Linked DNA regions of Homo sapiens. The protein of the gene in region 3 interacts with the protein of the main gene of each other region in a biochemical or structural test. Each region holds a gene or a part of one and is shown on either strand. Other genes may lie near its edges. The genes, in order: FAM20B, C1GALT1, GOLPH3, GOLIM4, MAN1B1 and GALNT6.

The links.
Region 1: the proteins of GOLPH3 (region 3) and FAM20B form a complex in vitro, tested with the Homo sapiens proteins (one study listed by BioGRID).
Region 2: the proteins of GOLPH3 (region 3) and C1GALT1 form a complex in vitro, tested with the Homo sapiens proteins (one study listed by BioGRID).
Region 4: the proteins of GOLPH3 (region 3) and GOLIM4 form a complex in vitro, tested with the Homo sapiens proteins (one study listed by BioGRID).
Region 5: the proteins of GOLPH3 (region 3) and MAN1B1 form a complex in vitro, tested with the Homo sapiens proteins (one study listed by BioGRID).
Region 6: the proteins of GOLPH3 (region 3) and GALNT6 form a complex in vitro, tested with the Homo sapiens proteins (one study listed by BioGRID).

What each region holds. Positions count from the first base shown.
Region 1 is NC_000001.11:179,042,894-179,046,393, forward strand, and holds part of FAM20B (glycosaminoglycan xylosylkinase), read left to right. Parts: intron 1-821; 5' UTR 822-954; coding exon 955-1,331; intron 1,332-1,879; coding exon of another isoform or gene 1,880-1,948; intron 1,949-3,500. UniProt on the Homo sapiens protein: Responsible for the 2-O-phosphorylation of xylose in the glycosaminoglycan-protein linkage region of proteoglycans thereby regulating the amount of mature GAG chains.
Region 2 is NC_000007.14:7,234,544-7,238,043, reverse strand, and holds part of C1GALT1 (glycoprotein-N-acetylgalactosamine 3-beta-galactosyltransferase 1), read right to left. Parts: intron 3,483-3,500; exon of another isoform or gene 1,665-3,482; intron 1,659-1,664; exon of another isoform or gene 413-1,658; intron 1-412. UniProt on the Homo sapiens protein: Glycosyltransferase that generates the core 1 O-glycan Gal-beta1-3GalNAc-alpha1-Ser/Thr (T antigen), which is a precursor for many extended O-glycans in glycoproteins.
Region 3 is NC_000005.10:32,164,320-32,167,819, forward strand, and holds part of GOLPH3 (Golgi phosphoprotein 3), read right to left. Parts: intron 1-3,500. UniProt on the Homo sapiens protein: Phosphatidylinositol-4-phosphate-binding protein that links Golgi membranes to the cytoskeleton and may participate in the tensile force required for vesicle budding from the Golgi.
Region 4 is NC_000003.12:168,026,425-168,029,924, forward strand, and holds part of GOLIM4 (Golgi integral membrane protein 4), read right to left. Parts: coding exon 3,356-3,500; intron 2,879-3,355; coding exon 2,799-2,878; coding exon of another isoform or gene 2,796-2,798; intron 1,414-2,795; coding exon 1,304-1,413; intron 1-1,303. UniProt on the Homo sapiens protein: Plays a role in endosome to Golgi protein trafficking; mediates protein transport along the late endosome-bypass pathway from the early endosome to the Golgi.
Region 5 is NC_000009.12:137,100,485-137,103,984, forward strand, and holds part of MAN1B1 (endoplasmic reticulum mannosyl-oligosaccharide 1,2-alpha-mannosidase), read left to right. Parts: intron 1-520; coding exon 521-669; intron 670-999; coding exon 1,000-1,188; intron 1,189-1,194; exon of another isoform or gene 1,195-1,272; coding exon of another isoform or gene 1,273-3,500. Other genes in the region: uncharacterized protein LOC124902313, read left to right, coding at 1,273-2,255, 2,292-3,500. UniProt on the Homo sapiens protein: Involved in glycoprotein quality control targeting of misfolded glycoproteins for degradation.
Region 6 is NC_000012.12:51,381,407-51,384,906, reverse strand, and holds part of GALNT6 (polypeptide N-acetylgalactosaminyltransferase 6), read left to right. Parts: intron 1-1,324; exon of another isoform or gene 1,325-1,446; intron 1,447-2,397; exon of another isoform or gene 2,398-2,594; intron 2,595-3,500. UniProt on the Homo sapiens protein: Catalyzes the initial reaction in O-linked oligosaccharide biosynthesis, the transfer of an N-acetyl-D-galactosamine residue to a serine or threonine residue on the protein receptor. May participate in synthesis of oncofetal fibronectin.

The DNA.
Region 1 (3,500 bases), on a different chromosome or scaffold from region 3:
TGATTGGCCCATGGGTGGCCATGGGTGGGCCCAGAAAAAGCACCATAAGTTCTCACTGTGGTTTGCGGACTCTTAACCAGAACCGACAGCCCAGCCCCCATGCTTCAGGCCATCCCTGGCTTGAAGGTGGGGCTTCACTGGGGACCCATCCCTTTCCGCCCAGGAGCCTGCCTCCTGCCACCATTCATGTCATCCACAGTGCCCAAGCTGTTTGTACCAAGGGATGCCTGCAGGCCTACACTGAGCCATCCTCAGTCCTCCCTTGGCCTCCCTCCCATGCTCATTGGTGCCCAAAGTCCGGAGTGGGCTGAGACAGCAGGGGCCTGGTGTATCAGCACTGCCCCAACCACATATATACAGGTCACGACATCACCTGGGCTTTGCCACAATTTTGCTCCACCCCAGAGTGGGTGCGGGGAGTGGGGAGAGGCCAGGCAGCAGGAGTGGCATTTTGGAGCCTGTGGGTGTAGCTGTGGCTGGGTGGCTGCAGCTGTACCCAGGAACACGGGGCCCCTGCTCCACCATCTTGGAAGAGGGCAGGGCTCCCACCTGTTCCCAGCTCCTTCCAGCTCCGTGGAGTGTGCAGCCCTGGCCATGCCTCTCCCACTGCAGCTGGTGTCTTCGCAGCAGCTGCTCCAGTTGGGCCACTGCTGCCATCATTAGGTCCTTCTCCAGATTAGTTAATTTTAAATTATTGAACCTTCTTGAGCTCAAGAATAGAAAGCCTAAAAGGGTGAGTCATATATTAGAGGCTTACAAAAGATTCAGGGGTGGAAGGACAGAATTTTTGATCAAATTTTGCTTTGTACTTGGGCTTGCAGGAACTGTGGAAGGTGCATCAGTGAAGAAATGGACCAATGTGTATAATCATGGAATCTCCTTGCTAACCATCACCACCAGCTCTCCTTAATACATGAGCAAGAGTGGGTCAGGGGAGAAGGAAAAGAGGTCAACATGAAGCTAAAGCAGCGAGTCGTGCTGTTAGCAATTCTCCTTGTCATTTTTATCTTCACCAAAGTTTTCCTGATTGACAACTTAGATACATCAGCTGCCAACCGGGAGGACCAGAGGGCCTTTCACCGAATGATGACTGGCTTGCGGGTGGAGCTGGCACCCAAGCTGGACCATACCTTGCAGTCTCCCTGGGAGATTGCAGCCCAGTGGGTGGTTCCCCGGGAAGTGTACCCTGAAGAGACACCAGAGCTGGGGGCAGTCATGCATGCCATGGCCACCAAGAAAATCATTAAAGCTGATGTGGGTTATAAAGGGACACAGCTGAAAGCCTTACTGATACTTGAAGGAGGCCAGAAAGTTGTTTTCAAACCTAAGCGGTAAGTTTTGATCTTGGAAGCTGCATGTGCTAGTTGGTTGATTCATTTAACTTGGGATTTATATAAGATTTATTTTGTCATCTTCTCTTGGAAGTCTCTTCAGTAAAATAAGAGGGGTAGACTAGATCTCTAAAGTCTTTTCTAGCACTTAACATGAATCTACCTTTATAGTATCATATAGAATAGTCTTCCTGCCCTAAAAATCCTCTGTGTTCTACCTACTCATTTTTCCCTCTCTGCCCCAGAACACCTGGTAACCCACTGGTCTTTTTACTATCTCCGTAGTTTTGCCTTTTCCTGAATGTAATATAGTTGCAATCACAGAATGTAAGCCCTTTCAGATTGGCTTCTTTCACTTAGTAAAGTGCATTTAAGGTTTATACATATCTTTTTGTGGCATGATAGTTCATTTGTTTTTATCACTGAATAATATTCCATTGTCTAGATGTACCACAGCTTAATTATCCATTCACTTACTGAAGGACATCTTGGTTGCTTCCAAGTTTGGGGCAATTGTGAATAAAGCTGCTATAAACATCCATGTGCAGGTTTTTGTGTGGACATAAATTTTCAACTCATTTGGATAGATACCAGAAGCATAATTGCTGGACCACATGGTAAGAGTACGTTTCATTTTGTAAAAAACTGCTAAACTATCTTCCAAAGTAGCTGTACCATTTTGTGTTTCTACCAGCAATGCATGAGAATTCCTGTTGCTCCACATCCTCACCAGGGTTTGGCATCAGTGTTTCAGATCATAGCTGTTCTAATAGATCTCTTATTTCTTTCACCTGTTTTAAGTAAAGAATTGGGCCATTTTAGTTACCTTAGTTAACTAAATATGTATGTTGTTCATGATCCCTTTGGACTTCCTAGGGATCTACAGAGATAATTTGTGTGACAATTCTGTGATACAGTTAATTATTTTTATTTATTTATTTATTTCTCTACACAAGACAGCTTGGAGGGTATAGTTAATTTTCTAAAAATGTTTTCTGAGTGTATGAATCTGAATTAGGTTAACATCATGATGGTGATTTGTATTCTTTTGCCGGGAGTTAGTTACCAATGAATATTCTCAAAGTTTGTAATGTCTGAAATCTTTTGGGTACTAAACATTTTTTTCATTCCTCAGTAGAGCTTTTGAAAAAATTATAACATGACTTTAGATTTCTTTCTGGAGTGGGAGAAGAAATGTAGGGAAAAGATGGACAAAATTCAACTCCCTTTCTTACCCAACTATTAGTAAATGAAAGGCAGTCAGAGCATGAATGTATAGGGAGCCCAGAAATGGAAGGGATCACTGTTGGTCTGGAACTGGGAAATATATGTCAGTGATGTGGAAATTAGGAAAGTTAAAACATTTGGTAGACTTTCAGAGAATAAAAATTTGACTGGGGCTGGGCGTGATGGCTCATGCCTGTAATCCCAGCACTTGGGGAGGCCGAGGTGGGTGGATCACTTGAGCCTGGGTGATGTAGTGAGACTCTGTCTCTATAAAAAAATAAAAAATTAGCTGGGCGTGGTGGTGTGCACCTATAGTCTCAGCTACTTGGAAGGCTGAGGTGGGAGGATGGGAAGATTGCTTGAGTGCGAGAGTTTGAGGCCGCAGCAAGCCATGCTCGTGCCACTGCCCTCCAGCCTGGGTGACAGAGTGAGACCTGTCTCAAAAAAAAAAACCAAAAAACAAAAAAAAACCGTGGTTATGTGGGCCTGGGATCTAATTTCTGTAATGCACACTATTTGCCAGGGATTACACTAAGTACTTTTGTATCTCTTAATCCTTTAAACCCTTATACGAAGGTTTAACCTTTTTGGACAATTTCAGTTCTTATTTCCTGAATAAGAAACTGAGGTTCAGAGAGTGTAACTAACTTGACAAGGTCACCTCACATCAATCAGTGGTACAGAAGTTTGAACCCATATTTGTTAGAGTTGTAAACAGCTTGTATTCTGCCACACACATGGAATTCTCTAAGTTTGTTTGCTTCCCATAAGTGATGACGTGGAGCACTCATCATCAAAAATCGCATTTAGCTTTGAAGTTTGGTCTTTGACTTCTTGGCCTGAGAGATAAGCAGCATAAACAGAGTAATGGAAAAAGGCAAACTAAAGACAAAAATAAAATTTGTATATAAAGAGATGGCCGGGCACGGTGGCTCACGCCTG
Region 2 (3,500 bases), on a different chromosome or scaffold from region 3:
TAGTAAGAGTTGACATTATAATCTAAATTCGTCTCAAACTGTAGTTTACTGATTAAAAGCAGCAGCATCACCTGGGAGCCTGTTAGAAATGCATAATCTTAGGCCCAGACCTACTGACTCAGAATCAGCATTTTAATAAGTTCTCCTGGTGCTTCATAGGCATGCTAAATGCTGCCTTAAATAGTCTCTGCTTGGCACTTCATAAAAGAAAGCAGCCAGTTTTTAATAGATTACTGACAGAAATTTCTCACTGCTCTGAACGAGTTTCTGAAGAGCAGGAAAGACATGCTGCTGAAGTGGCAGTTCATTTTTGAAGTTCACAATAATCCACTATTAAGAATTTCTACAAGTACCCTGAGGTGGTAAAAGGTCAAAGCACAGGAGTTGAGATTACTTTCTGATAGTCACATACCTCATTCCAAAATGTAAATCCACCAATCAAAAACAGAAGAGAACAATGGTAGACATGGGAATTCCAAGATGGTCTAGAGCAGTGCTCTTTAAACTACAGGTTTGCAAAGAAATAAGGAGCTTATACCAGAACAGAAAGCAACACATTACTTTGAAAAAGGCCTACTATCAGAACCAACCAATCAAAATGTCCACTTAACTAAGCAGTGAGCTTAAAACTGAAACTTAAAACTGTCCATTTAAGTAAGCAGTGAGCGTAAAACTGATTTACATCCTAGTGTAACCTCATTATCTTGTGCAGACAAACAGCTGACAAAGTGTCAGGCCAGGACCGCATTTTGAGTAGCACCGGTACAGAGGAAGAGCTCAATGATGAGATTCTAGATGAGTACTTCCCAAGCTATCTGTGGTGAAAGGCCAATTTTTATTTCTAAAAGAGGTCTACACTGTGTAAATAGGATAAAAATGAATTATAAGAAAAATAAAACTAAAATATAAAACAAGTCCTAAATTTTTATTTTTAGCTTCAGACAAAATTACTCCAATTACAATAAAAGTTTCTGCTTACTCCCAAATAAGCAGACATTCTTTAGTTATAGGACCAGAATGAGTCTATGAACTGACTTTCAGTAGCAATGTTCTGGGCAGTATCCTGACGAAGCATATGCTTAAAATTAAGGTCAAACAGCAAGTTACAGAAGCTTAGTCCTATGAGAAATTAACAATGGAGGCATATAATATACTAGTTAACCAACTGAGAGGGAATAATGGGAAAAGCTGGGTGGAACATAAAAATATTCTCATGTCCCAGCTGGGCACAGTGGCTCAGGCCTGTAATCCCAGCACTTTGGGAGGCTGAGGCGGGTAGATCACGAGGTCAGGAGTTCGAGACCAGCCTGGCCAACATGGTGAAACCCTGTCTCTACTAAAAAAGATACAAAAAATTAGCCAAGCGTAGTGGTGGGCGCCTGTAATCCCAGCTACTCGGGAGGCTAAGGCAGGAGAATTGCTTGAACCCGGGAGGCGGAGGTTGCAGTGAGCCGAGATCCCACCACTGCAGTCCAGCCTGGGTGACAGAGCGAGACTCCATCTCAAAAAAAATAAAAAATAAAAATTCTCATGTCCCTCTGAGTATCAAGATTCACAATCCAAAAGGACAACAGCAGACAAAATCACCCTACTTTCAGTCAGAAAGCATAGACATCTCATATCCTTGAGGAGCCCAATCTCTTGGCTATACAAATATACCAAACCTTGAATGGATAGAACAGTGAATGCAGGAATCCCCAATCTGTTTCATTCAGGTAAGACAGGTTTGTCCACCGCTGAACTTGATAAATAATTTTTCATTCACTAATTGCTTTGTACTGGGCATGGGCTGGCATAGGAGATGAAAAAAATGAGTAAGACACATTTCCTGCTGCAGAGGAATTCAGTCCATTCAGGGAGCCTGAGCCTGACACACAAACCAATAATTGCTAAATACTAAGAGATGTTATTATAGAGGTATGAACAAAGGATTCAATGTGCTGAAGGAAAATAGTGGCTAATAAATCCTACAGAGCAGTAGATAGGGACCTAGGTAGAACAAAGAGGAAGATTAAAAAATAAAGACATAATACAGAAAATAGGTTATAAGTTCACCAAAAGGAATGGTGAAGTTTGGTTGAGTGCAGGTACATGGGTATAGCTGAAGGCCTGAATCGGAAATGCACTGAGGACTGAGAGGAAAAGAGATGAAAAATGGTAAAGTAGCAGCACTGTTAGAATGTACTGACAAATCGAATTGGCTAGCATGTGAAGGCAAGCACCTACCATGATTTCTTAATTTCTGGCACAGACAGATGGTAATGAGCCATATAAAAGAAAGAATAGAGGAGGAAGAGCAACTTCTAGGAGTAGGAAGGAAAAGGAGACTCAATTTACACATGCTGAGTCTGAAGGGAGTAGACAAACTTTTAGCATACCCCACATTTTGTAGGCCACTGAGCTGGACAAGTATGTATCTAATACACATGCCTGCAGTGAGGCCTCGTACGGCTTACTATTAGTAGGGAACTCTGCCTCCAATTGATCACCTAAAGACATGTGGCTATGCTACAGAGCAAATACACAGTGACCAAACTGTTCTGTAGGAACACAGAGCACTTGCTCAGAGCTGAATTACTGTTACATAAACAATCACAAAACACGACATACTTTGTAATAGTATGTTTATGTTTGCTAGTTGATAAAATGGAACCAGGCTTTGAAATCTCACCATTCAACCTCTGCTTGAGAGGTGGTGAAGAAATAATTTACTACTGAGAAGAGAAGAGAAAAAACTGAATAGTGGACCCTCTGCATCCCAGAATTCCAATTGTTTTCAAGCTACTTATATTATTTTCTGTCAAACCGTATTTTGCATTGTGTTAATGTCACCTCACAATGTCTGGAACTGGGCTAAAGACAGTAAGAAATAGAAGGAAATTAAAATTATGCGGGTTAATGATGTCACACAGACAAACAGCTAAAGGACAGAAACTTGGAGAGAACCAACACTTAAGGGACACATAAATAACTCAACTGAGAAAATCTGGTTAGAGGTAGGAGGCTAGGAGAAAATGAAGTCTTTAGAACGCATCCTTGGTTTTTAACTTCCTTGTTCTTTGTGCCTCTTGAGGAAAAAAAAGATTAGTTCTATTAACTAATTATAAAAATATAAATCGAAACTTACATACACCTCAAGTTTCTCTAGGAAAACAAGACTTAAGCAAAAGCTATGACCAAAACAAGTAACAAAAACCAAAGACACACATATAACAAAACTGAACCTAGAAAAACATTTTCAGAAACAAATCAAATCTGAATAGTTATGCCCTTCCCCAAATCATGGGTTCTGAACTATTTCTACTTAAAAACGAATTCAAAATTAATATCTTATTCCCTAAATAAATCTGAGTTTTAGCAATTCCCTTCTCTTGAGGCAAACCAAGAATTATTTTTAATATCTGGAATATATAGCCCATTTTAATTAACAGATACAGACAGGAATATGACAAAATTTAGACTAAAATACTGCTTATGTTTACTGCTTAATAAAGTAAACC
Region 3 (3,500 bases):
AAATTTTAATATGATGGAATATACATATTTGTTTGTACACTGTAAGTGTGCCTTTTTATACATAAGAGGAGTAAGATTCTTTTTTTTTTTTTGAGACGGAGTCTCACTCTGTTGCCCAGGCTGGAGTGCAGTGGCGCGATATGGGCTCACTGCAAGCTCCGCCTCCCGGGTTCACGCCATTCTCCTGCCTCAGCCTCCCGAGTAGCTGGGACTACAGGAGCCCGCCAGCACGCCAAGCTAATTTCTTTGTATTTTTTTAGTACAGACAGGCTTTCACCATGTTAGCCAGGATGGTCTCCATCTCCTGACCTCGTGATCCACCCGCCTCAACTCCCAAAGTGTTGGGATTACAGGGGTGAGCTACCGCGCCCGGCCAAGAGTACGATTCTTTCACTACCACGCCCAGAACCAAGTTTCACTCCCTTGGCAATGACATTACCACACTGGGAATACATAATTTACTTAATAAAGCCAGTAATCTACTTAATTAATACAGTAAATGTATTAAGTAAATTTATTTAATAAGTAAATTTACTTTAATAAATAATATTAGCTTACTTAATAAGGTAAATTATGTATTCTTTTTTTTTTTTTTTTTTTGAGATAGTCTTGCTCTGTTGCCCAGGCTGGAGTGCAGTGGCATGATCTTAGCTCACTGTAACCTCCACCTCCTGGGTTCATGTGATTCTCCTGCCTCAGCCTCCCGAGTAGCTGGGATTTCAGGTGCATACCACCCTGCCTGGCTAATTTTTGTATTTTTAGTAGAGATGGAGTTTCACCATGTTGGCCAGGCTGGTCGCTAACTCCCTGCCTCAGGTAATCCCCTTGCCTCAGCCTCCCAAAGTGCTGGGATTATAGGCATGAGCCACCACACCTGCCAGGGTTAGGTAAATTATGTATTCTTAATGTGAGTAATGTCATTGTACTGAGTGACTGCCAAATGCCAGCCTGAAATATATGACATCAAAAAATTATAGAACAGGCCAGGCAGGGTGGCTCATGTCTGTAATCCCAGCACTTTGGGAGGCCAACGTGGGTGGATCACATGAGGTCATGAGTTTGAGACCAGCCTGGCCAACATGGCGAAACCTTGTCTCTACTAAAAATACAAAAAGTACCCCTGTGTGGTGGTGAGTGCCTGTAATCCCAGCTACTCAGAAGGTTGAGGCAGGAGAATCGCTTGAACCCAGGAGGCAGAGGTTGAAGTGAGCATAGATTGCACCACTGCACTCCAGCCTGGGTAACAGAGCAAGACTCTGTCTCAGAAGAGAAAAAAAAAAAATTCTAGAACAGCAACATAATTTAGTTTTGTAGTTTACTATATGAGCTTTGACACACAGAACTAAAATGAATGAACTTGAAGACAGACATGTTCTTCAGTGAATTTGTACTTAGTAAAGGGCCTCTCACAGAGCATGTGCTCAGTAAACATTTGATGAATGGATGAAAACTGTTAGAATCCTAGATGTGTGGTAATCCTAGATTAGAAGCAGTTATGCTGCTTCTAAATGTCATTTAGCAAGATGAGAACCTCTAGACAGGCCACAGAAATGTGGACTTCGTATCTCAAATCACTTAAAATTCAACTCGCTACAACCCTGGAAACCTGGAATTTTCTGTAGTTAATTTTCAGGAAGGAAAAAGAAAAGACGAAAACCTTAAGCTAAAACAAACAGTTCCTGTTTGGTAATTTTTAACCTTCCTGATTCACTAAATGCTTTGAGTATCTAATGAAAGTTCTGTCCTCTTTCCCCAAGAAAACACACAACTGCAGAGAATTCACAAAGTTTCTCAGCTCTGTTCACTCCAATTTAAGAACTTCTCCATTAAAGGAATATGTAAATCAAATACAATGCATTAAGTTTAAAAATAAGTAAATTTTTTTGTTGTTGTTTAAAATGTTATTCTTAAAAGTGACCAGAAACATCCTTGTTGGCAATACACTGTACTTTAATATTAGTTGTGTTTTTGCAGATGAGAGGTTTACCAAACGGGAAGAGAAATAGCCTATGTTCTAAATATATTTGTAATACCTAAGTCAAAAACCTCAAAATGTACTAGATTACATTGTAATACTGTACAATGCTATTAAAACAGGTTGCAGTCTTCCCAGCTTTGATAAGAGAAACCTGAAGCCAAAAACATCAATTTCAAAATGAAGCCAGGTTTCCACTTTTGGCACTTGTCAGGACACTTACTAAAAAGCAGCAGCATGGCCGGGCACAGTGGCTCATGCCCAGACCTTTGGGAAGGCGAGGTGGGCGGATCACTTGAGGTCAAGAGTTCGAGACCAGCCTGGCCAACATGGTGAAACCCCATCTCTACTAAAAATACAAAAATTAGCTGGGCATGGTGGCAGGCGCCTGTAATCCTAGCTACTTGGGAGGCTGAGGCAGGAGAATCACTTGAACCCAGGAGGCGGAGTTGCAGTGGGCCAAGACGGTGCCATTGCACTTCAGCCCGAGTGATAAAAGCAAGACTCCATCTTAAAAAAAAAAAAAAAGCAGGAGGAGGACAAGCACTGTCTTTTTGTGCTGCTTCAAAGGGAGACTCACAACATGAAGATAAATCCTCTAAACAAAGACTACAGCATAGTTTTATACTATTTAATCTGATTAATGGCAGTAGAAAAGTTATGCTGTTAGAAGGGGGGGGGAGTTTGCAAAGACATAAAAAAGTGTACAGCCAAAAGCTTAACATTATGTACCAGAACAAGCATAATGCCTGATGCCTCCAGGGTATTTAAGATTTACATGTAAGATGATATTATAAAAGTGTATTTCTTTAAATATCAAAAAAATCCCCCAAATATTTCAAAATCTATCAAAATAACTTCAAAATACAATTCTTTTGTTTTGTTTTGTCTTTTGAGATGGAGTTCCACTCTTGTCGCCCAGGCTGGAGTGCAGTGGCGCAATCTTGGCTCACTGCAACCTCCGCCTCTCAGGTTCAAGTGATTCTCCTGCCTCAGCCTCCCGAGTAGCTGGGATTACAGGTGCTCGCCACCATGTCTGGCTAATTTTTATATTTTTAATAGAGACAGGGGTTCACCATGTTGGCCAGGCTTGTCTTGAACTCCTGACCTCAGGTGATCCATCCACCTCGGCTTCCCAAAGTACTGGGATTACAGGTGTGAGCCACCGCACCCAGCCTTCAAAATACAATTCTAAAACGTAATTCAAATGCTCCATACAAGAACTCTCAGGTAGTCCAAAATTAACAAATATCAAATATTAGTATAACTTATGAGATGAGTTAGTGAATATTTTGACCATATTGTAAAAGAATCCCAAAGCACTAAAAAGTAATTTCAACAGTATAAAATCTTGTTGAAAAGGTATAATAAGCAGACCAGGCGTGGTGGCTCACACCTGTAATCCCAGAACTTTGGGAGGCCAAGGCGGGAAGATTGCTTGAGGCCAGGAGTTCGAGACTAGGCAACATAGTGAGACCACGTCTCTACAAAAAAAAATTTTTTTTTTTAATTAGCTGGGCATGAT
Region 4 (3,500 bases), on a different chromosome or scaffold from region 3:
TACGTTCAAATAAAACAGAAAGAGAGGAACAAGTGGGATTAACCATTTCTAATTAAAAGGAAGAATGGTACAAAGGCCAATGTTTCCCAGCATGTTCCCCAAAACAAACAAACAGATGACAGGAAAGTAAAGGATCATATAGTCAAGAAATCAAAGCCTACAGCAGTTCCCAAACAAGTGACTGAAATGCCCTTCCTCCCACCCCATGCACATTTGCAGGCCTTTGTACACTTGCTTTCTTGCTCTCTCCTGGATAGTCTCTTGCTCTCTCATATGTTTCTGCTCTCAAGTATTAGCCTTTTCCTGAAAATATTTCAGGACTAGGTTCCCTGGAGCATATTTTCAGAAATCTTGATGCAAGGAATGCCAGGGAAAGGTGTTCTGCCACATCTCAGTGCAAGTTAAGTGGAAAAGCTGTTTCCAGCAAAAGGGCTTTAAGTAGCTAGCAGGATGACTTTCTTGATGATTAGCAAGGACATGGGTCCTCCTTTTAATCAGGGCTCATGTGACATAGCACAGACCGACTGTTATAAACATGGTAGTTGATCTATTAGCAAGAGATGACAGGGCAGCTAAAATAAGCTGTAAAAATCATCTACGCATACACGCAGGAACAGACTCACTAAACATTTGCTTGCTTCACTTGTAGGCAGGGCCAAGGATCTAGCCCACCCAGCTGAACTAGAGGTCTCAGTCTTTTTTGGTAAACACAAACAACAATGCTGGTTATTAGATGTCTACCTACTTATATTATAAATTTTCTGTACCATTGCATACCTGAACAACTCTTCATGTCTCAGACCACATATCCTTATCCATATATTTATTAAAATGGTCACTAGACTGCTAAGAGATTACAGAGAGTCACACAAATACCTAACACTCTAGCAGACTGCTCAACATGCTCAGGAAGGGTTAGTTTCCTTTCTCTGGTCCCATCTCCAACTTCCACACTTGCCTTTTATTCCTCCTAGCTTTCAGAGTTACTACATATTTCAGTGTCTCTCAGTTTTGCTTTTCTAGGTTTTAGTTTTATTAATCTAAAAGTCATCAGAAAAAAAAAATCCTGGTTTTGTTTTTTTTTTTCCCCCAGAGCAACTTTTAAACCAGCTCATCACATACACGTACACCATGGTTTACAGTTAAAAACACTGCCCATATATAATTATGCAAGCCATTTTCCTTCTGGGCTGAGGATATAACAGAAATATCTGGGGCTGAAGGCTGGCATCAGGCAAGTTTTCAACTCTCTTTCCCACCTTATGAGTTTACATGTGTCAGGGGCAGAAGAGAGGATACTTACATCTGCCTCAGATTCTGGGTCGGCTTCTCGGGGTCCTTGTTCACGAGGCTCATGTCTATTACCTGGATCTCCTTCTGCTTCATCTTGGTGCTGGTTGTCTCTTTCATAGGCTAGCAAATCAAAGGAACTAAAATCAGCCCAAAATGAATCAAACAGGATTTCCCTTTCAACTCAAAGAAAAGCCACCAGTGGACTTTTCTACAGACTACAATACCTCCACCTCTGTTAACTCAACATAAGGCCTATGTCCTGGCTTTTCTGAATAAGGTTATGTTCTCTTCACAGACTGTGTGTCTAGAGAGATGATATGGGTCAGACACTTTTCTTCTAAAATAAATATTTTTCACAGGAGCTGTAATTTTTCCCCCATATGCAAGAAAACAACAACAATCAAAACTCTCTCAATAAAAGAAAGCCCAGTTGATTGGACACTGCTGAAGAAATCAACTAATGTTTGATAATATCAGAGGAAGTAGCTGGGCTCCAAAAGAAGAAATTGATAGTTTCAGGAAATGCAAGGAAGAACTGCCCCATCTGTGGAGCTCAGAAACAAATATAGCCCATCACATGTTTTCTGATGTCATCACAGTAATGATGATGACCGCCACAGCCCAGAAACAGCACACATTCATACTCAGACATTTACTTGCTGCTTTTTGAAAAAATATTTAGATAAAGAGAATTGTATGAGCACAAAAAGAGAAGAACAAATCACTTTTTAAAACAAGTAAGATAGAAGAGGAAAGTTTAAGTATATGGAGTGTACTAAGCCTAGAGAAAATGATGATACGGGGTAACTTACCATCAGCCTTCAAGTGCACAAAGGGGTTTACTACATAGAGAAGAGGACAAGCCATTCTCTAGTCTTACTGATATGAGAACAAAAAAGCTTAAAGTGCCACATGGCGGACATAAGGAAAACAATTTCTTGACTGTAAGAGCTGTAAGATATCACAACGGGCTATTGAGGGAGGTTGTATGTAATCACTTTCTTTCTGACTTTTTAGAAAAAGATACACATCTAAGTGTTAGTGGTGCCAGAGAGACAGTAAGTTACATTCTGGTTCTATTATAACAGTAAGCAATATTTGATAAATTACATATTAAGTGCTTATCATAAATGAAAGCTACTATTGACTTAATTTGAAAACATTTTAAGGCAATGATGTGAGGACTTCCAAGGTAAGGAGAAAATGCAGATGTTTCCCAAAGCATAATAATCCTATAATAATTTGTCAGAAATATTATAAATATTTAGTATATAAAAAGCTTAAACTACAGGGAAAATGATAGAGAGGAAACAGATTATCTTGAGCATTTTTCACTACCAGCATGTACTGTTTAAGAGGATTAAGAAAAAGACATGATTCACAAACCTCCTTTGCACTTAGGTATGCATACAGCTCATTGATGTTATATAATATTGGCTCACTGATAATATACAATGTTATCAAGTAATTTATTAAAACATTCATCATCTAGGAAGTCTCACCACCTCCTTCCTCTCCTTGGATTCCCTGGTCCTCTGCTCCCTGAACGATATCATTATCCATAGCATCATAATGAGCTTGCTGCCTACAAGAGACACAAACATGATAAATCCAGTGGGACAAAATTCAGAGGCACAGTTTGACATAGGTCATTTATCTTTAAAGACAGTAATAAGTAATGTTTCTCAACATTTTTAAGAAGCCATGAAAAATTTTTAAAAACCTCTTATGTATGCAATTAGGTATAATAAAAATTCCAGATACACTTTCAAAAGGTATCTTAAAAAGATAAAATATCTTTTAAAGATAAAATAAAATAAAGTTGGCACAAAGCCTGCAAGGCTATTTGGAGACCTAACCTACCACTTTTGAGCAGAAAAAAAATATTATTTTTAAAATTAAATATTTGGTATTTAATTTTCAAGTAGCTGTCCTGCCTTGGCTATTTGAGCAATATGAGCCCCTTAACTTCATGAATCACAAATGCACAAAACTGTTTTTAATTTGCGTATGAAAACTGGAGCAGGGGCTGTCTTCGTTCATTAAGGAAGGGGAAGGCTACCGGAGCTGCTCCTGGTGCTGCGGCCGGCCCTCCTCAAGCTCAGCCTGCCTCTGCAGGGCCATCTCTCTTGCCACCTGCTGCTGCTGCTGTTCCTGCTGCCGTAGTAAGTGCCCCTGCAGCCTCTGCTGGTGCAAAGCTTCCTGGT
Region 5 (3,500 bases), on a different chromosome or scaffold from region 3:
GGAACGATAACGCCCCAGACATGGGTTTGGTTTTTTGTTTTTGTTTTTTTGTTTTTGAGATGGAGTCTTTCACTGTCTCCTGGGCTGGAGTGCAATGGCGCAATCTCGGCTCATTGCAACCTTGGCCTCCTGGTTTCAAACGTGGGTTTTTTGGAGACAGAGTCTAGTGGTGTGGCCCAGGCTGGAGTGCAGTGGCACGATCTCAGTTCACTGCAGCCTTCGCCTCCCGGGTTCAAGCTATTCTCATGCCTCACCCTCCCCAGTAGTTGGGACCACAGGCATGCGCCACCATACTCAGCTAATTTTTGTGTTTTTAGTAGAGATGGGGTTTTCCCATGTTGTCCAGGCTGGTCTCTAACTCCTGGGCTCAAGCAATCCACTTGCCTCAGCCTCCCAAAGTGCTGGGATTACAGGCATGAGCCACCACGCCCAGCCAAATGTATTTTGAAGATGGATAGATAATAGGAAAACGTTGGAGCCATCCATTTGTCTCTGCATCCTTTACTGTTTTATGTCATAGAATTTGAGGAAGCCAGGAAGTGGGTGTCGAAGAAGTTACACTTTGAAAAGGACGTGGACGTCAACCTGTTTGAGAGCACGATCCGCATCCTGGGGGGGCTCCTGAGTGCCTACCACCTGTCTGGGGACAGCCTCTTCCTGAGGAAAGCTGTAAGTGTCTTGGGGTGTCCTGCAGGGAGATGGTGGACTCGCATTCAAGCAGTTACCCCTTTAGTGGACTTGTGGGGACGTGACTGTCTTCCTGTTTCCTCTTCAAATGCACTGGAGTCTGTTTCTGAGCTCATATTCGTGAGCTGATGAAGCCACTTTGATCACCACTGGCCTTGTAGAGACATTCACTCAGTGCAGAGTGATGCCCGTTTCCTTGCTGCTGTGTTGACCCCAGAGAGCCTTCAGTGTCTCCACTGAACTGCATGAAAGGGTGTAGACGAGGCCTCTGGGTGACCTGAACGTTGGTTCTCTACTCTGCTCATATACCAGGAGGATTTTGGAAATCGGCTAATGCCTGCCTTCAGAACACCATCCAAGATTCCTTACTCGGATGTGAACATCGGTACTGGAGTTGCCCACCCGCCACGGTGGACCTCCGACAGCACTGTGGCCGAGGTGACCAGCATTCAGCTGGAGTTCCGGGAGCTCTCCCGTCTCACAGGGGATAAGAAGTTTCAGGTAAGGGGGCAGGCTTTCTGGCTGGATGCGCCTCCCCTGGAGCTACCTTTTGCTCATCACAGCAGGTACTGTGTGTGTGTGTGTATGTGCATGTGTGTTTTCAGGTTTTTTACTGTGATAAAACACACAAAACGCACCACCTTAACCATTTCCAGGCGTGGTCGGTGGTGTTACATTCACGCTGTTGCAGGCGTGCAGGTCGGTGGTGTTACACACATTCACACTGTTGCAGGCGTGCAGGTCGGTGGTGTTACACACATTTGGGCTGTTGCAGGCGTACAGGTCAGTGGTGTTACACACATGCTGTTGCAGGAGTACAGGTCGGTGGTGTTACACACATTCATGCTGTTGCAGGCGTGCAGGTTGGTGCTGTTACACACATGCTGTTGCAGGAGTACAGGTCGGTGGTGTTACATGCTGTTGCAGGCGTGCAGGTCGGTGGTGTTACATTCACGCTGTTGCAGGCGTGCAGGTCGGTGCTGTTACACACATTCCTGCTGTTGCAGGAGTACAGGTCGGTGGTGTTACACGTGCTGTTGCAGGTGTGCAGGTCGGTGGTGGTACACACATTCATGCTGTTGCAGGAGTATAGGTCGGTGGTGTTACACACATTCACTGTTGCAGGCGTGCAGGTCGGTGGTGTTACACATTCACGCTGTTGCAGGCGTGCAGGTCGGTGGTGTTACATTCACGCTGTTGCAGACGTGCAGGTCAGTGCTGTTACACACGCTGTTGCAGGCGTGCAGGTTGGTGGTGTTACATTCACACTGTTGCAGGCGTGCAGGTCGGTGGTGTTACACACATTCATTCTGTTGCAGGCGTGCAGGTCAGTGTTACACACATTCACGCTGTTGCAGGCGTGCAGGTCGGTGGTGTTACACACATTCACGCTGTTGCAGATGTGCAGGTCGGTGCTGTTACATTCACGCTGTTGCAAGCGTGCAGGTCGGTGGTGTTACATTCACGCTGTTGCTGGCGTGCAGGTCGGTGGTGTTACACACATTCACACTGTTGCAGACATGCAGGTCGGTGCTGTTACACACATTCATGCTGTTGCAGGCGTGCAGGTCGGTGGTGTTACATTCACACTTGCAGGCGTGCAGGTCGGTGGTGTTACACACATTCATGCTGTTGCAGGCGTGCAGGTCGGTGGTGTTACACACATTCACACTGTTGCAGGCGTGCAGGTCGGTGGTGTTACATTCATGCTGTTGCAGGCGTGCAGGTCAGTGGTGTTACACACATTCACGCTGTTGCAGGCATGCAGGTCGGTGGTGTTACACACATTCACGCTTTTGCAGGCGTGCAGGTCGGTGGTCTTACATTCATACTGTTGCAGGCGTGCAGGTCGGTGGTGTTACATTCACACTGTTGCAGGCGTGCAGGTTGGTGTTACACACATTCACACTTGCAGGCGTGCAGGTCGGTGGTGTTACACACATGCTGTTGCAGGCGTGCAGGTCGGTGGTGTTACATTCACACTGTTGCAGGCGTGCAGGTCGGTGGTACACACATTCACACTGTTGCAGGCGTGCAGGTCGGTGGTGTTACACACATTCATGGTGTTGCAGGCGTGCAGGTCGGTGTTACACACATGCTGTTGCAGGCGTGCAGGTCGGTGGTACATTCATGCTGTTGCAGGCGTGCAGGTCGGTGGTGTTACACATTTTCACGCTGTTGCAGACGTGCAGGTCAGTGGTGTTACATTCATGCTGTTGCAGGCGTGCAGGTCGGTGGTGTTACATTCACGCTGGTGCAGGCATGCAGGTCGGTGGTGTTACACACAACGCTGTTGCAGGCGTGCAGGTCAGTGGTACACACATTCACGCTATTGCAGGCGTGCAGGCCGGTGGTGTTACATTCACGCTGTTGCAGGCGTGCAGGTTGGTGTTACACACATTCACACTTGCAGGCGTGCGGGTCGGTGGTGTTACACACATTCATGCTGTTGCAGGCGTGCAGGTCGGTGTTACACACATTCACACTTGCAGGCGTGCAGGTCGGTGGTGTTACACACATTCACACTGTTGCAGGCGTGCAGGTCCGTGGTGTTACACACATGCTGTTGCAGGCGTGCAGGTCGGTGGTGTTACATTCACACTGTTGCAGGTGTGCAGGTTGGTGTTACACACATTCACACTGTTGCAGGCTTGCAGGTCGGTGGTGTTACACACATTCACACTTGCAGGCGTGCAGGTCAGTGGTGTTACACACATTCATGCTGTTGCAGGCATGCAGGTCGGTAGTGTTACACATTCATGCTGTTGCAGGCGTGCAGGTCGGTGGTGTTGCACATTCATGCTGTTGCAGGC
Region 6 (3,500 bases), on a different chromosome or scaffold from region 3:
AATTTATTTATTTTTATTTTTTGAGACAGGGTCTCGCTCTATTGCCTAGGTTGTAGTGCAGTGGCATGATCATAACTAACTACAGCCTCAACCTCCTGGGCTCAAGCAATCCTCCAGCATCAGCCTCTCAAGTAGCTGAGATTACAGGCCTATGCCACCACACCCAGCTAACTGGTCTCTTTTTGCTAATTGGTCTTTTTTTTTTTTTTTTTTTTGAGACAGAGTCTTGCTCTGTCACCCAGGCTGGAGTACGGTGGTGCTATTTCTGCTTACTGCAACCTCCAGCTCCTAGGTTCAATCAACTCTCCTGCCTCTGTCTCCTGAGTAGTTGGGATTACAGGCACATGCCACCATGCCTGGCTAATTTTTGTATTTTTAGTAGAGAAGGGGTTTCACCATGTTGGCCAGGTTGGTCTTGAACTCCTGGCCTAAAGTGATCTGCCCACCATGGCCTCCCAAAGTGCTGGGATTTCAGGTGTGAGCCACTGTGCCTGGTCCTAACTGGTCTTTTAAAGAAATTTTTGAATGCTAATTTGCAACACTCTGAATTTATTTTATAATATCACAGTGGATTGTAATCAGCAGTTTGATACAAGCTGGGCTGGGTAAAGCCTCAGTTCCTTACACCAGTGAGAGAAGGTAAGTTTGTGTTCTGGCCGGTGGGGCCAGGGAAGCAAATCCCATTTGTTCAATCTAGGCAGGCTTTTCAGAGAGGATTTCTGGCATCATCTCGGGATCAAAGCCAAGGATGGTCCAAAGAGTTGCAGGCCCAAGGGTAGCTGGAGGAAAAAGACTTGGGAAGAAGTGCTGAGCCACAGCGAGAGGGAAATGAGTGGATGGGGGCTGCGGGCACACTTGCCAGGAAAGCAGGAGGCCAGGTGTGGGAGCCCAAAGGTGAGGGAGATATACAAGACACCAGGGGCGGATCTCGTGAAGCTTTGTACTTGAAACAATAGCAAAGAATAGCAGCTATTCTTTCTCCAAGGCTGGTGGAGGGGCGACCTCCACGACCTTGCTAACCATACTTCTGGGAATCATCTCCTACACAGGGAGCAGAAATCCTTAACCCCAAAGTCCTGTGGCTTGCACTAGATTCTGTGTCTCTTCTAAGGGACTCTTCCTGTTGCCCTCATGCTAAGCAAACAAACTAGAGAATGAGTGCCTCACCACCAAGGCTAATCCCAGGTGTCTCATTTCGGTTCAGGATGTGGTTAGTACCTTGAGGAACTGTAGGTTTGAGAGAGAAAGCTTCAGGCAGCCAGATGGGATTGAGAGATTAGATGCCTAGGAAGAGCTCAATTTAACCCTATATTTCTTTCTCCAGGGAAAATAAAAGAAGCAAAAACAGGCCCTGCTGTGAGGGACCACGAGGCAGTGCCAGGATGAAAGAGTTGGAGTAACCTAGGTGATTCTGAGTGAATCAGTCAGGAGGCCTTCCTGGAGGGGGTGAGTCTTGAGCACTGGCAACAGTTAGTAACTACAATCTTACCATGCCTTTGTTTCTAACTGTGCTCCCTCTTTCTTGCTGGAGTGGGAAGGTAGATGGAAAGTAGCAGGGAAGACGAAGCCTGCAGGACGGTTCAAAGCTGTCATGGCAAACACTCCCCCATTCTGCAGGCCTCTGTGTGGGCTTAGCCGGGACAGTTCCAGAACTGATGAGGTGTCTAGCTCAAGCAAATCCCCCTGTGCTAGCCCCAGCATAGCTCAACCTCTGTGACAAGAAACTCCTGCTACACTGAATCCCCATTTCCTCCCCGAAGCCTTCCTCAAACCCACAGGGAACTCTACCTCTCTCAGCTTAGCTCTTACTGTCTGTGCTATTCTGCTTTAATTTTATTCATTTTTGAATAAGTAATATAGTCAGGGTTCAAAGTACAAAAGAGTATTCAGTGAAAGGTCCTTTTCCTGCTCCTGAATCTCCCCTGGTCAGGTGCTTCCTTCACCTGGTCAGTGCTATCAGTTCTCGTTCTCCAATAAGATTTTCAAATCCCTTGGGGAAAGGAATTGAGCCTTTGTGTCCCTCTGTGTACCAGACGGGGTAAACTGTCCCACCCCATCACCCAAGGGGGTCTTCCTAGGCACCATACCCTCCCTCTTCCATCCACACTGCTACTAACTCTCCTGGGTCAGACTCCGAATGGGTCATCCAGCTGCCAAGCAGGTCCCTTTCCAAGATACCCTCCACCGCTGTCATATTGCTCTTCCTGTAATGCTGGGCTCCCAGCTTAACGCTTTATTACTCCCCATGCCTTGGGTCAAGGGCAAATGCTCCTCAGCATGATGAACAAGGCCCTTAGGACTTGGTTTCAGCCACCTCTGTAGGCCCAATTTCTGCTACTCCTGCCATACCAGACTGCTTACAGTTCTGTGACTGGCTCTTCTGTCTCCCACCTCTAGACCATTGCAGGTACTGTGCCTTCTGCCTGAAATGTGCTCACCTCGCCTCGCTGACTCCTACTCGCCAGTTAGTGTTCGGCCCATTTCTGCCCCCGTGAGATTTCTTCACAGATGTTGCCCTCCCCCATTTGCTGAGTTTCCTGCATGCCGGCTCCTTCAGCACTCAAGGGTACCTCTTTGATTCTGCTTCTCACAGGGTAATCTCTGTTTAAAATCTGATGCCCCCAATTGACTGTAGGATCCTTGAGGGCTGGCCTTGCACTTCTCTGTGTCCCCCGCCTCTTGCAGAGTACCTGGTAGAGGCAGTTATTCAGTAAATACTGGTGGAATAAACAAATCTCTCCTATCTCCTAGACAATAGTTAATACAAAATAGATGCTCAAAGAGATTTCTTTTGTTTGATTTTTGACGGTGCTGCTGAATCTGATGTTATAAAAGAAGCCACATTTGTACCCCAGTCCAGAATGAATCCACCTCCCCACTTGAGATCACGATGGCCACATACTCCCAAGGTCTCAGACACCAGGCCTCTCCACAGGCAGGAGCTTGTGCGTTTAAACAATAGCATTAAATAGTACAACCAGAGTTATTTTTAAGCAAAACATGCAGGGAGTAATGAACGTGGCTTTGGCCAAGGGCCAGGTGCTTGAGGATAACTGCTGGGAAGTGAAGCAGGGATTTATCATAATAATAGAAATAGTTGATACCATTTATTGAGGGCTTAGTGTGACAGGTGCTCTGCCAAACATTTTACCTACATTATCTGATTTAATCCTCCCCACAACCCTGTGAGTTAGGTATTAGTTGCCCCCACTTTATAGATGAGGAAATTGAGGCTTAGAGGGATTAAGTAAATTACCCAAGGGTCACACAGCTGCTAATGATCAAAACTAACACTTTGTGGGAACTTACCATGTGCAGAGACTGCTAAGCTTTGTCCATGAATTTTGTGGGGAAGGAGCATAATCCTTGTAACAACCCTAGGAGGTAGGTGCTACTACTAGAAGAGGAAGAACTGGAATTTGTGCCCAGGTCCCTTGCCATTGATGTCTAGTGCTTAACCAGTGAGCTTATGTGTCCAGAACTCTGCACAGAAAGTTCTG